Linked DNA regions of Homo sapiens. The protein of the gene in region 3 purifies or fractionates together with the protein of the main gene of each other region. This does not show direct contact. Each region holds a gene or a part of one and is shown on either strand. Other genes may lie near its edges.

Evidence for each region.
Region 1: the proteins of ENPEP (region 3) and L1CAM fractionate together in Homo sapiens (co-fractionation; one large-scale study listed by BioGRID). This does not show direct contact.
Region 2: the proteins of ENPEP (region 3) and PLXNA2 fractionate together in Homo sapiens (co-fractionation; one large-scale study listed by BioGRID). This does not show direct contact.

Annotation. Positions count from the first base shown.
Region 1 is NC_000023.11:153,876,046-153,879,698, forward strand, and holds part of L1CAM (neural cell adhesion molecule L1 isoform 1 precursor), read right to left. Parts: intron 1-3,653. UniProt on the Homo sapiens protein: Neural cell adhesion molecule involved in the dynamics of cell adhesion and in the generation of transmembrane signals at tyrosine kinase receptors.
Region 2 is NC_000001.11:208,038,235-208,041,887, forward strand, and holds part of PLXNA2 (plexin-A2 precursor), read right to left. Parts: intron 1,825-3,653; coding exon 1,758-1,824; intron 1,534-1,757; coding exon 1,387-1,533; intron 751-1,386; coding exon 591-750; intron 241-590; coding exon 137-240; intron 1-136. UniProt on the Homo sapiens protein: Coreceptor for SEMA3A and SEMA6A. Necessary for signaling by SEMA6A and class 3 semaphorins and subsequent remodeling of the cytoskeleton. Plays a role in axon guidance, invasive growth and cell migration.
Region 3 is NC_000004.12:110,552,593-110,556,245, reverse strand, and holds part of ENPEP (glutamyl aminopeptidase), read right to left. Parts: intron 2,932-3,653; coding exon 2,791-2,931; intron 1,895-2,790; coding exon of another isoform or gene 1,849-1,894; exon of another isoform or gene 1,328-1,848; intron 1-1,327. UniProt on the Homo sapiens protein: Regulates central hypertension through its calcium-modulated preference to cleave N-terminal acidic residues from peptides such as angiotensin II.

The DNA.
Region 1 (3,653 bases), on a different chromosome or scaffold from region 3:
GCCCTCAGCCCCGCCCCCAGCTGGCCGGCTTCTCCAGCCCTCCCCTCCCCATCCGCACCCCTCCCCACCTTGGAGGGAGAAATCTGGAAGAGATAGCCCTGGCTGGGCCTCTAGGTTGCCTTTTATTCCCTCTCTACTCTCTGTCTGCACCTTTCCTGCCAGCTGCCTTCCCAGCACCAACTTGTTGCCCCATCAGCTCCCCTGTGCATGGCATGCACATCCCCGTATGTGTCTGCATGTGCAGGTGTCCGTGGGCATGTGTGTGGTTGTGGATCTGCAAGCAGGGAGTGAGCTGTATGTGAGCTGGTATTTCTGTGGTGTGTCTTCTCTGGGAGGGGTTGCACTCATGAGTGGGTGTGTTAGTGTGTGTGCCTGAGGGAATCAACACACAAGTCTGCTAGCTACGTGTGTCTTCTTGTATGTCTTTATGTATCTGTGGGGATGAATCCCTGTATCTATTATCTCTGTGTGCACACACATGTAGAGAAGAATTCTTCTTGCAGTCACATTGCTATAGCTTTCAGAGCCAACTGATGCCTGGGTGCTGTACAGACCTAAAAAGCTAATGGGGGGATTGGGAAGTGGGATAGAGAAGGGAGGAAAGGGGCCCAAGATGGCAGCATTTCACAAAATAGTTTCAGGAAAATGAAGAAAGAATGGGGAAAGGGCCAGGCGTGGTGGCTCACGCCTGTAATCCCAGTAGTTTGGGAGGCTGAGGTGGGTGGATCTCTTGAGGTTGGGAGTTTGAGACCAGCCTGGCCAACATGGCGGAACCCCGTCTCTACTAAAAATACAAAAAGAAAAAAAATTAGCCTTGGTGGTGGGCGCCTGTAATGCCAGCTACTTGGGAGGCTGAGGCATGAGAATCACTTGAGCCTGAGAGGCGGAGGTTGCAGTGAGCCAAGATCGTGCCACTGCCCCCCAGCCTGGGTGATGGAGTGAGACTCTGTCTAAAAAAATAAATAAAAATAAAAATAAAAGGCCAGGCACAGTGGCTCATGCCTGTAATCCCAGCACTTTGGGAGGCCGAGGTGGGTGGATCACCTGAAGTCAGGAGTTCAAAACCAGCCAGGCCAACATGGTGAAACCCTGTCTCTAGTAAAAATACAAAATTAGGGCTGGGCGTGGTGGCTCACGCCTGTAATCCCAGCACTTTGGGAGGCTGAGGCAGGCGGATCATGAGGTCAGCAGTTTGAGACCAGCCTGGCCAACATGGTGAAATCCTGTCTCTACTAAAAATACAAAAAAAAAAAAAAAAAAAAAAAAAAAAGCCAGGCGTGGTGGCTCATGCCTGTAATCCCAGCTACTCAGGAGGCTGAGGCAGGAGAATCACTTGAACCCAGGAGGCAGAGGTTGCGGTGAGCGGAGATTGCGCCATTGTACTCCAGCCTGGGTGACAGAGCAAGACTCTGTCTCAAAAAAAAAAAAAAAGTTAGCCTGGCGTGGTGGTGCATTCCTGTAATCCCAGCTACTTGGGAGGCTGAGGCAGGAGAATCTCTTGAACCCAGGAGGCGGAAGTTGCAGTGAGCCAAGATCGCACCATTGCACTCCAGCCTGGGCAACAAGAGCGAAACTCCATCTCAAAAAAAAGAGAGAAAGAATGGGGAAGGAAGCCTTCCCTTGAGAACTGGTGTGGGAGAAGAGAGGAAGGAGGAAAACAACCCCCTGCTGCTCCTCAGCCCCCTGGGGGTCAAGAGAGGCCACTGAGGCCTCCTCCCTTCCAGATGCTCCAGGTTAGGGTCAGGACAGGGGTCAGGACAAGCTCTGGGACATTTTCCGTGACAGTGTTTCTAACACTTCTTGTGTGTCTCAAAGTCCCAATTTCTAGGTCTTTGTCTGAGTCTTCAGAGCTCAACTGCTGCATGTGTCCACCCCAAACCCAAGCCACACCGGCCATGTCCATATTCACCTACAAGTAAGGGGAGCCAAAGACTAAGGGTCTGAAAGAGGGGGCTCCTCTGACAATGACAAGAGGAAACAGACTCCCAAGTGGCCAGACCACTTCAATTCCAAACAGGAAGTGGTTAAAGTGCAGGCAAGGCAAGAAAGGGTGTTGTTAGGTGACAGAGCTTGGAGGCTGAAGTCCCAGACTAGACGCCTTCATTAAATCCATACTGTGCATCCTCCCTCTGCCCAGCCAGGACCTTATCAAAGCGGGCACCGAGCCTCAGCAGGAACACCGAAAGGATGGTAGAGAAGTCAGCCATGCTGTGCTAAGGCTCTGGGCCTTGTCAGTTTTGTGTAACAGAGTGACCCAAGAAGAGCTGTGAATGCGGCAGATCCCGTGGGGACTCTGGGCAAGAGCTTGCTGCAGAGGGTGGTGGAGAAGCAGCAGGGTGGGTCAGCGTGCATGGCCTGGAGGCCAAGAGATGACTTGGAGGGTAAGAAGAGTGATTCCCAGCCTGCAAGAGCTGGACCTGGGCCCAGAAGGGAAGAGCAACAGTGGATCTGTTCCACCCCGGCCTCTCCCTACAAAGCCAGTGGATCAGGGGAGGCCCCAGGCAGCACTGGCCTCAACTTCAAGGCCTGTAGGAGCAGTAGGAGACTCGGATCAGAGAGCAGATGATCAAACAGCAGCCTTGGGAGCTCTGAGCACTGGTCTTAGGAGGGGGAGGGGAGGAAACCGGAGCAAGGAAAAGCTCAAAGAAGGACCCTCCTGCATGTCAGAGGCTTTTGGGTGCTCTGGAGGTCGATAATTTCTGCCACGCAAGTTCCTCTATTTGTCCTCCAAATCTAGAATCCTGGAATGGTGTTTGGCATGTACGCTCAGGGGAAATACAATATCCCCAAACCCCTGGTCCCCGCTCCCTGCCCCATCCCAGCCCCATCCCATCTCCCCACAGGCTCATATCCAACTTCTTTTTTGGTCTCCCAGTATTTGCCACCTAGCTTGCCACCGCCCTGGGCAGTCGGAGACAGGCAGGAAGCAGCCAGAAGGTTGCGAGATATAACAGCTGGGAGGGGGCGCTCCCTCCTCTCCTCCCACTGCTGCTGGGTCTCTGATCTCTCACCATTCCTCAGGCAATTACAGAGCAAGCAGCTAGGGTTGTCAGCTCAGCAGGCCCTCTACCCCCCACCAGCACCACTAAGGGCAAAGGAGCGGGGAGGGGGGAGTGTTCCACAGATGGAGCCAAGGCCGGGTCTGCCAAGGGTGACAGACAGAGTGAGAAGAGGCAGGGGGGAGCAGGAGACAAAGACAGACGTAGGAAGACAGCGCTAACCACGATGGAGATGGTTAGGGGGTGGGGAAATTCCGAAACGGAGACCCAGGCAGCAGAGAAAGGGAGAGAAGAGGAAACCGGAGCACAAAGGGTGAGAGGCAGCTGCAGAGTGCGCCGCTGAGAAATGGCAGAAAGAGCGAGAAGAGTGAGGGGTGGGGGTGGGCGTGTGCACGTGCGCGTGCGCGCAGGCCGCCTGCACAGCGTCCTTGTCCCTGGGGGCTGTGCCAGGCAAGGGGCGGGGAGGAGGGAAGATGGGCCTGGGTCAGTGGAGGGGCTTCCCGGCGTGGACGTCACGCTGGCCTGGGAGCAGGGTAGAGAGACAGACAGAGGGTGGAGCAGCTGTGAGCTGGGGCCGGAGGGGCCTACAAAGCCCCACGCAACAGAGCATCAAGGCCCTGCCCACTTGTGGCACTGGGCAAGGGACGGCCGTGA
Region 2 (3,653 bases), on a different chromosome or scaffold from region 3:
CCTGTTCTATGCTCCAGCAGGAGGAGGAAAGCAGGGAGAGGAAAATCCTTTTTAGACTTTTGAGGCCTTAGAGCAAGGCTTAGCGGGAAGGGAACATTCTGGGAAGCTGAAGAGGGGAAAAGACACCCCCTCTCACCTGATAATGCATCAGTGTGTTGAGCCGCTTCCAGTCACCCTCAATCTTGGTGGTGATGTCCTCATCTTGCAGCACGACCCGGGCGATCCGGCCTTGGCGCCACTCTGGGTGGAGGGGGTGGTGCAGGGAGCGGCGTGAGAGGGATGAGGGCTGTGAGCCAGTGTCTCCCGATTGCACCTTCTCTAGGGACCTGGCAACCCGGCCCCCTCAAGCTGGTACCAATAACAGAGGCTAGAGACATCTAGGGCTCCATGGGCCCAGGCAGCAGAGGAAACACGTAGACCTCCCCAGAGACAGCCACATCTGAACAGGCAGCGCTCAAAGCGGGAAGCATTTCACACGGGCCTCAGCTGGCCAGGACACAGTCATGCCCCTGCAAGGGTTGTGTGCATGGCAGCTTCCCTTCCTTCACCTCTCAACCCCTGCCCTCACACTCTGAGTCCAGGTTTCCTACCCAAGTCCATGTCCACTGCCCTCGGCCGCTGGGAATAGGGCACATTCTTATACACGGCATCAAGAATCTTCTCCTTGACCTGTGTGATGGTGTCACAGTTTAACACCTTCACTGGGATCTCTGGACTGTTCTCGTTGTCAGGGTTGACGCAGTTCAGGATCTACAAGTAGGGGACAGAGGGTGAGCAGGACAGGAGTTGAAGGAGTAGTTTGAGGGAGAGGGTCAGGACCTCAGAATCTTCTTTTTCCAAAGTTCACCCTCCTTATAGGGGAAATAAGGGTACTTTTCTGGTCTGTGACTCAGTTTCCCTCACCTTCATAACATCTGCCAAATGAGAGTCTGAGTCATTGTGTCCAATTCTTCTTTCTCAAAGCACCAGGACTCTACTTTCTAGCTCCTGGACAGCTTAGGGGAGACTATAGTCCTGGAATGAGGCACCCTCAGTGTTTAGAGATGGCTCTACATGTATCAGAGACTAGTCATGCACTTCCCCAAAGCCTCTATGTTAGGAACCAACATACATCTTTCTCATAATACCAATTACCCAATAACTAATGATGGGTGAACTTTTTTCTCCCCCAATATTATCTAGGATAAACCGAGGCATAGAGTGCTTGGGATGGGTGGGCGGGCCTGCCACCTTGCTCTTGGTACACTTAGTTGTCCTTTGGGCTCACCCCAGACCAGCCTCCCATCCTCTTTATTGACCCCCTAGACTGCTTTTATGGACAGAAGGCAGAGCAAGGGGCAGAAGTAGAAGATACACAGGCGGGCCCGGAGCTTCCGGCTTCCTCACCAGGGTCTTGTACTCGATCTGCTGCCGGATGAGCTTGTCCTCGCTCAGGGAGTAGCGGGCCTCGCCCGTGATGGCATCAATGGGGCCCTTCTCCATCTGCTGCTTGATGGCACAGTATAGCATGAAGAGTGGCTCCCCTGCGCACTCCTGTGGGCACAGACAGGGCAGGAGGTGTGGGCACGGCCTCCTCAGGTTTGTACGTTTTCCCTTTCCTCTCTCGGAGCGAGGCCAGTGGAAGGAAGGGCTTTAGCACAGCCAGTCCAGGTTCCTGCTCCCGAGGGAGGGGGTCCCCATGCAGCCCTGTGGCCAGGATCTAAGCAGCAGTGCCATCCTGCCCTGGACGCTAGGCCCCGTCTCACTCCCTTTCTCACCTTTAGGAACTTGTGCAGGAGGAAGGCGAACCAATTGGTCAGCATCTTTTCAGCCACAGACTCTGTCCTGGGGAAGGGACAAAGGGTAAGGGGCAGTCCTTCACAGAGGGGTCTCCGTGGTGGGGCCTGGGCTTGCCATGAGGTCTCCCAAGAGAACAATGGAGCATGGGAGAACGCAGGGCGGGAGTCAGGACACCTGGGTCCCAGCCCAGCTCACCCAGTAACTAGACTGTGACCTGGGGGTAGGGGTGGCTTCTTTCTGGGCCTCAATTTCCTATGAAAATGGAGAGGTTGGCCTTTTCAGCCCTGATGGTCCGTGGTGCTCTGAACTTTGGCTGCATCTGAGACAGGGTCTGTGGATAAAGGCACCTCACTATCCCACAGGGCTATAAAGAACCGGTTCTCCCAACTCACTTCTGGCCTCAGGGTGATAACTAGAGAGTTTCCCAGTCCCTCTGGGCTTTCTTGCATGTGTGAGTACCCTGTTTTGCCTATCTGGAAGGTGCCTGGTCCCTTCCCCTCCAAAAACACTCAAGGTTAGACTTCCTTGGGTTCAAATCCTGATTCTGCCATACGTTGGCTGTGTGACCTTGGGCAAGTCATTTAACCTCTCTGGTTTCAGTATTCCTATCACTAAATGGAGACAGTCATAATAACATCCAACCCCAGTGGTTGTTGTCAGGGTTGAATGAGTTAATATTTGTAAAGTGCTAAGAAAAGTGCCTGGCACCTGCTAAGCACTATCCATTAGCTGTCATTATTGCTGTCATGTGGGGTCTTGGATCCCAGCCCTCAGGTAGAGAGCAGTGCTTAAGTGTTTTGCCAACAGGGGATTTGCTCATGCAAGGGCTGGCCCCCCTCCCCTTCCCATCCCAGGGCTACAGATCTGGGGATTTGGGAAGGAACAAAGCGGCTGTGACAGACCCTCAGTGAAGGGGATGCCGGAGGGGTATTTTAACTCCCTGCACGTGGTGCAAATTATATCCTCTGGTTGCAGTAAATCCCAGGCATTTGCCAGGGCTGCTCAGCAATCTGGGCCTGGGAGAGAGTGACAATGGCAGAAAAAATTGTAGCTTTCTCCCGTGGCTCCTCCCAGCACCCTCTCCCTGCATTGTGCTTGAGATTAGCTCTAATTTAAATACAACAGTTCTTAATGAGAGTTTCTAATGCTCAGATTGGCAGGATGGGGGCTCAGTACTCATAAAGCAAAGCCATTCTTCCTCCCTCCTCACCCCACGTGGGGCCTGGAAGCCTGAGACCTTGCTAGAGGAAGGCTAAAGAGGAGGGGTGGTGAACGGAGGTGCAGCCCTCCAGCCCCTGCTGCCCAGAGGACTCCAAAGCTGTGCCCGGCTCCCCACGGCCTCTAGAGAGGGTGGGCTCAGGGGATACTGAGGTCTCCAACCCTCTCCCCTGCCAGGAAAAATGCAGTGGGCATGTGTAGTGGATGCTGTGATTCAGATCCAGGAAGCTGAGCTCAGAAGGCACGGCCTTCTAGGCTGTCCAAATCCCTAGCTCAGTGCTGCGCAATAGAACCTTCTGCGATAATGGGAATGTTCTCTATCTGTGCGGTCCCGTATGGTGGCCACTAGCTGCAATGTGGCAACCAAGCACTTAGAAAGCGGCTAGGTGCTAGGGCAATGGAGGAGCTGGATTTTACATTCTATTTCATTTTAATTTGTAGCAGCTACCTGTGGCTAGGGGCCGCTGTGCCGGACAGCACAGCTCTAGAGGCACCGGGAGGAAGAGACTGTGAGATAGGAATTATTTTTCTCATTTTGTCTAGGAGGAAACTAAACAACAGAGTGGTTACAACACTGGCCAGAAATCACAGAGCTAGCAGGAGGCAGAGCTGGGACTCCAGCTGAGATCCGAGCAAGGGTCTGAGCTCATCCATCA
Region 3 (3,653 bases):
TTATTTTTGTTTGTATGCATTTTGTGCAAAAAACACATACCAGTTTCACAATAAGAAAACAGGAATTTAAAAAAGCAAATCACACTGAGTTGCTTTGATGAGATTCTATAGATTCAAAGAAAGTCTGCTAATTGCAGCTAATAAAACAATGTTTTCAGTGACCTTCTATAATTTCTGTAATATTTATTTCTGTTTTGTCTAAAGGACATATTTAGAAACTAGCAATGAATATGCTGAGTGAAAACTGCAACTACTTGTTTAAATACCAGAAATGCCAGAACAAAATATGTACACCCCAGGAAACTAATATCATATAAAGTATAGAAAATAAGGGAAAATATACTGCATGCTTATCATATTGGTTATTTTTAAAAACTAAAATAAGGATTTAATTATATTTTAAATAATTTGAAAAAAATTTACAAATATTGTCTTCTTGGATTCAATATTTATACAAGTATTATTATGTTATCCAAAGAAATAATTTTAATACACACAAAACTTTTAAGTGCTTATTAAATTGTTTGGTTTATGAGGTAGTATTTGAAGGGTTTCAATCATGTCCTAATGACTTAGTTTTTCATCTACTGTCATAAACTAAAATCACACCACCTTATTATTGGGTCAACTCAACTTCACAGTTTCATCTAAGAGTTTATTGGAAGAAACAAAAGCAAAGAATAATTTCTGAAGTATCTTTGGGACTTTGTGGCTAAGTCTCAAACTGGCAAGGACATTAGCAGTGTGGCCATCAGTTGTCATAAAAATCACATGACAAAAGCTTTATTTAAATAGAAGATTATTTATTTCAGGATGACCATAAATTGTTCAGAAATGGAGATAGTAAAACTATTCATCCTGAAATTTGGAAAATGTTCAAGTGTTTGGGATTATTTGGATAAAGTTTGGCTCATTTTTGTTTAATTTTTATTATCCAATTTTCATAGGGAAGTTCTGTTTATTCAAGCCAAGTACAATTAATATTGGGTGTTTGTGTGTATTAGACATGTGGTTATTAGCAATTTTACATTTGGGGCCATTTGAAATAATGTCTCATGAGAATTAGATCATTAGATTATGAAGAAATGCTAAAGCCTTGGGCAAGAGTTTTGGAGTACTTCTGGAAATAGTTTATCTTCTTTTTTTATCTTGAAAAATAATCAATTTACCAGGCCTAATACATTTATTTTAAGGCCAGACACTTATGAATTTTATGACAAGGCAAAACCTATTTTTTTCTACTTCTTAATTTTCCTGAAGTGAAACAACTAATTTTTAAAAATGAAAAATGCATTATTTGAAATAAATCACAGCATAGCTACTCAAATAGGCCTTGAGAAATATTTATTCAATAAACAATAAGTTAATGGCCATTTTATGCAAAATAAACCATTATTTACTTGTCTTTTCATAGTAACTCAAAAGTAACTTTTATGCTTCATCTACATAGGTTTCCTGCACCATACACCACAGAAAAAGAGATAGTTGTATGGTCTTTTCAACTAAAACAAAATATGCAGTATTTATCACTAGCCATATATTTTTCAAAATGGAGGGTATTACCTTGCATGATATAAACTGTTACATCTAGATAATAACATATTCTTAATAGGTATATTCATTCATTCTAAATTAAGCATTTCATTTAAACAATCATAAAAGATGAACAATGCACATATGTGCGTGCACACACACACACACACTCACATGCACACCAACCAATCTTCATAGAGATGGGTGAACAGTGACACTCAATAGTTACAAGAATAGAAAAGGTAAAAATTTATCACAAGCAGGCAGAAGCAATGTAGTGTATTTTGGTTGGGAGCTAGAGGTAGAATCTGAATCTCAGCAGGAAAAGAAATGTAAATGGACATAATAGCACTCTGGTGAGCTGTGGGGTAGAAAAGAGAAAATAATTAAAAGTTATAATTAGAGTTGGTATTTCTCACAAGGCAGTCATTATCAATGAGACAGTGCCGCTGGATTGACAGGAGAGATTAAGAGGAGATAACACAGGCTATTTCCTAATGTAGGGATTACAGATGGTAAAGGTCTTTTCATCAATGTTTATATGTTTATTTGGGACATACGTTTATTCTATATTCTATTTTGTACTCTATCAAAGAACTGCCTTTTGGATGGAAATTGTGCATTATATTTAGAGTATCAGAACCAAGAGCAGCAATCTTTCTTCTGCACGGGCCTGAGGAAATACGAAGTTTGGAAAGGCATCTCTTTAACTGATTTTGCTCTTGTCCTTGCTATTTCCCATTTTAAAAGTTCTATTGCCTAGGAAATATAATTCCCTTTTAAGAAACATTCAAAATACTTGAAATTTCATTATCTGGTCAGGATAGGTAATAGTTATCACCCACATAAGCTCAGTATGATATAGAACTCTAATTTGAACCCAGGTCCAATAATTTTTACCTAGCTTTAATCAAACATTAATTGAGAACTAAATATGTGCCTGGCATTATGCTAGGTACTAGCACAACAGGCAGAATTGTATTAACTTGTTTTAACCAAACTAAAAATAATGCAATTTAGTCTTCCAGATCTCAGAATCCTATAGGTCAGTTGAAACAATAATTTCCAGAAAAAAATTGTTCTTAAAATTAACTAGTACATTGCTTCCCTGGAAGGATAATACCATGATCCTTTACCTCTAATAATGCCATTTTAGATATTGTATAGATGTCAGAGACAGTGGCCCAAAGAAAAATGAAGGAACCAGTAGATAGTATGAAACAAAGAAAACAGCAGACCATCATCAGATCATCCCACCTGTTGACTAGATAGTCCCAGTTGAGTTGTATCCAATTCCAGGCCATGTTCTTCCCATAGCTGTTATATGAGATATATCGAATGACTGTAAACACATCCTGAGTTTTAATAAGGTTCGTGTCCTTGAGCAAATCCAAATACCTAAGAGAAGCCAAACAGAAAAACAATTCAAAGTGAACTTTTAATGTTCACCCTTAGCTAAATTCCAATACAAAATAGTTTTCATGCCAGCAATTCAATTCTTGAGGTATCAACTGACAAAGTTAATTAAATATGACAAATGATGAAAGACAACTTAAAATTTTCTGATATGTTTAACTGTTTTAAAAGACCAACCTATGATTTTAAAGACTAGTGGAATGTAAACTATAAAACATTTAAAATTAAATTATTTTAGAAGCACCAAAAACAATTTTAAAACACATTGTTTTTAATTTAAAAATTAAAATGTTAATTTTAACCATTAATATTTTAAAACAGCATTTATTGAATAGAGTACTTCACACACTTTCCCATTATCCCACTGGATTTTTAAAAGAAGCCAGTAAATTAAGAGAATGTATCTATGCTCTTATATTCTATAGGAAAGCAGTTGTTTGCTCTTCCCTAGATTGTAAGAAATAATCCTATAATGTAACCTATATGGTTATATTAGTTGGCAATAATTAAGAATACAAATAAGTACAAGATAAATTAAATGACTAAATGGATAGGTTTAATTGTATGCCATGGCTATACCTAGAGTAGCGTTTCTAGCCCAAGATCTTACAAGTGTATATTGTATTGAAAAAGTGTTTCCAAAAAAGGTCAGCACACATTTTGTTCACTGTGACAAGGGAACCTCAAAAATAGATGTCTACTAC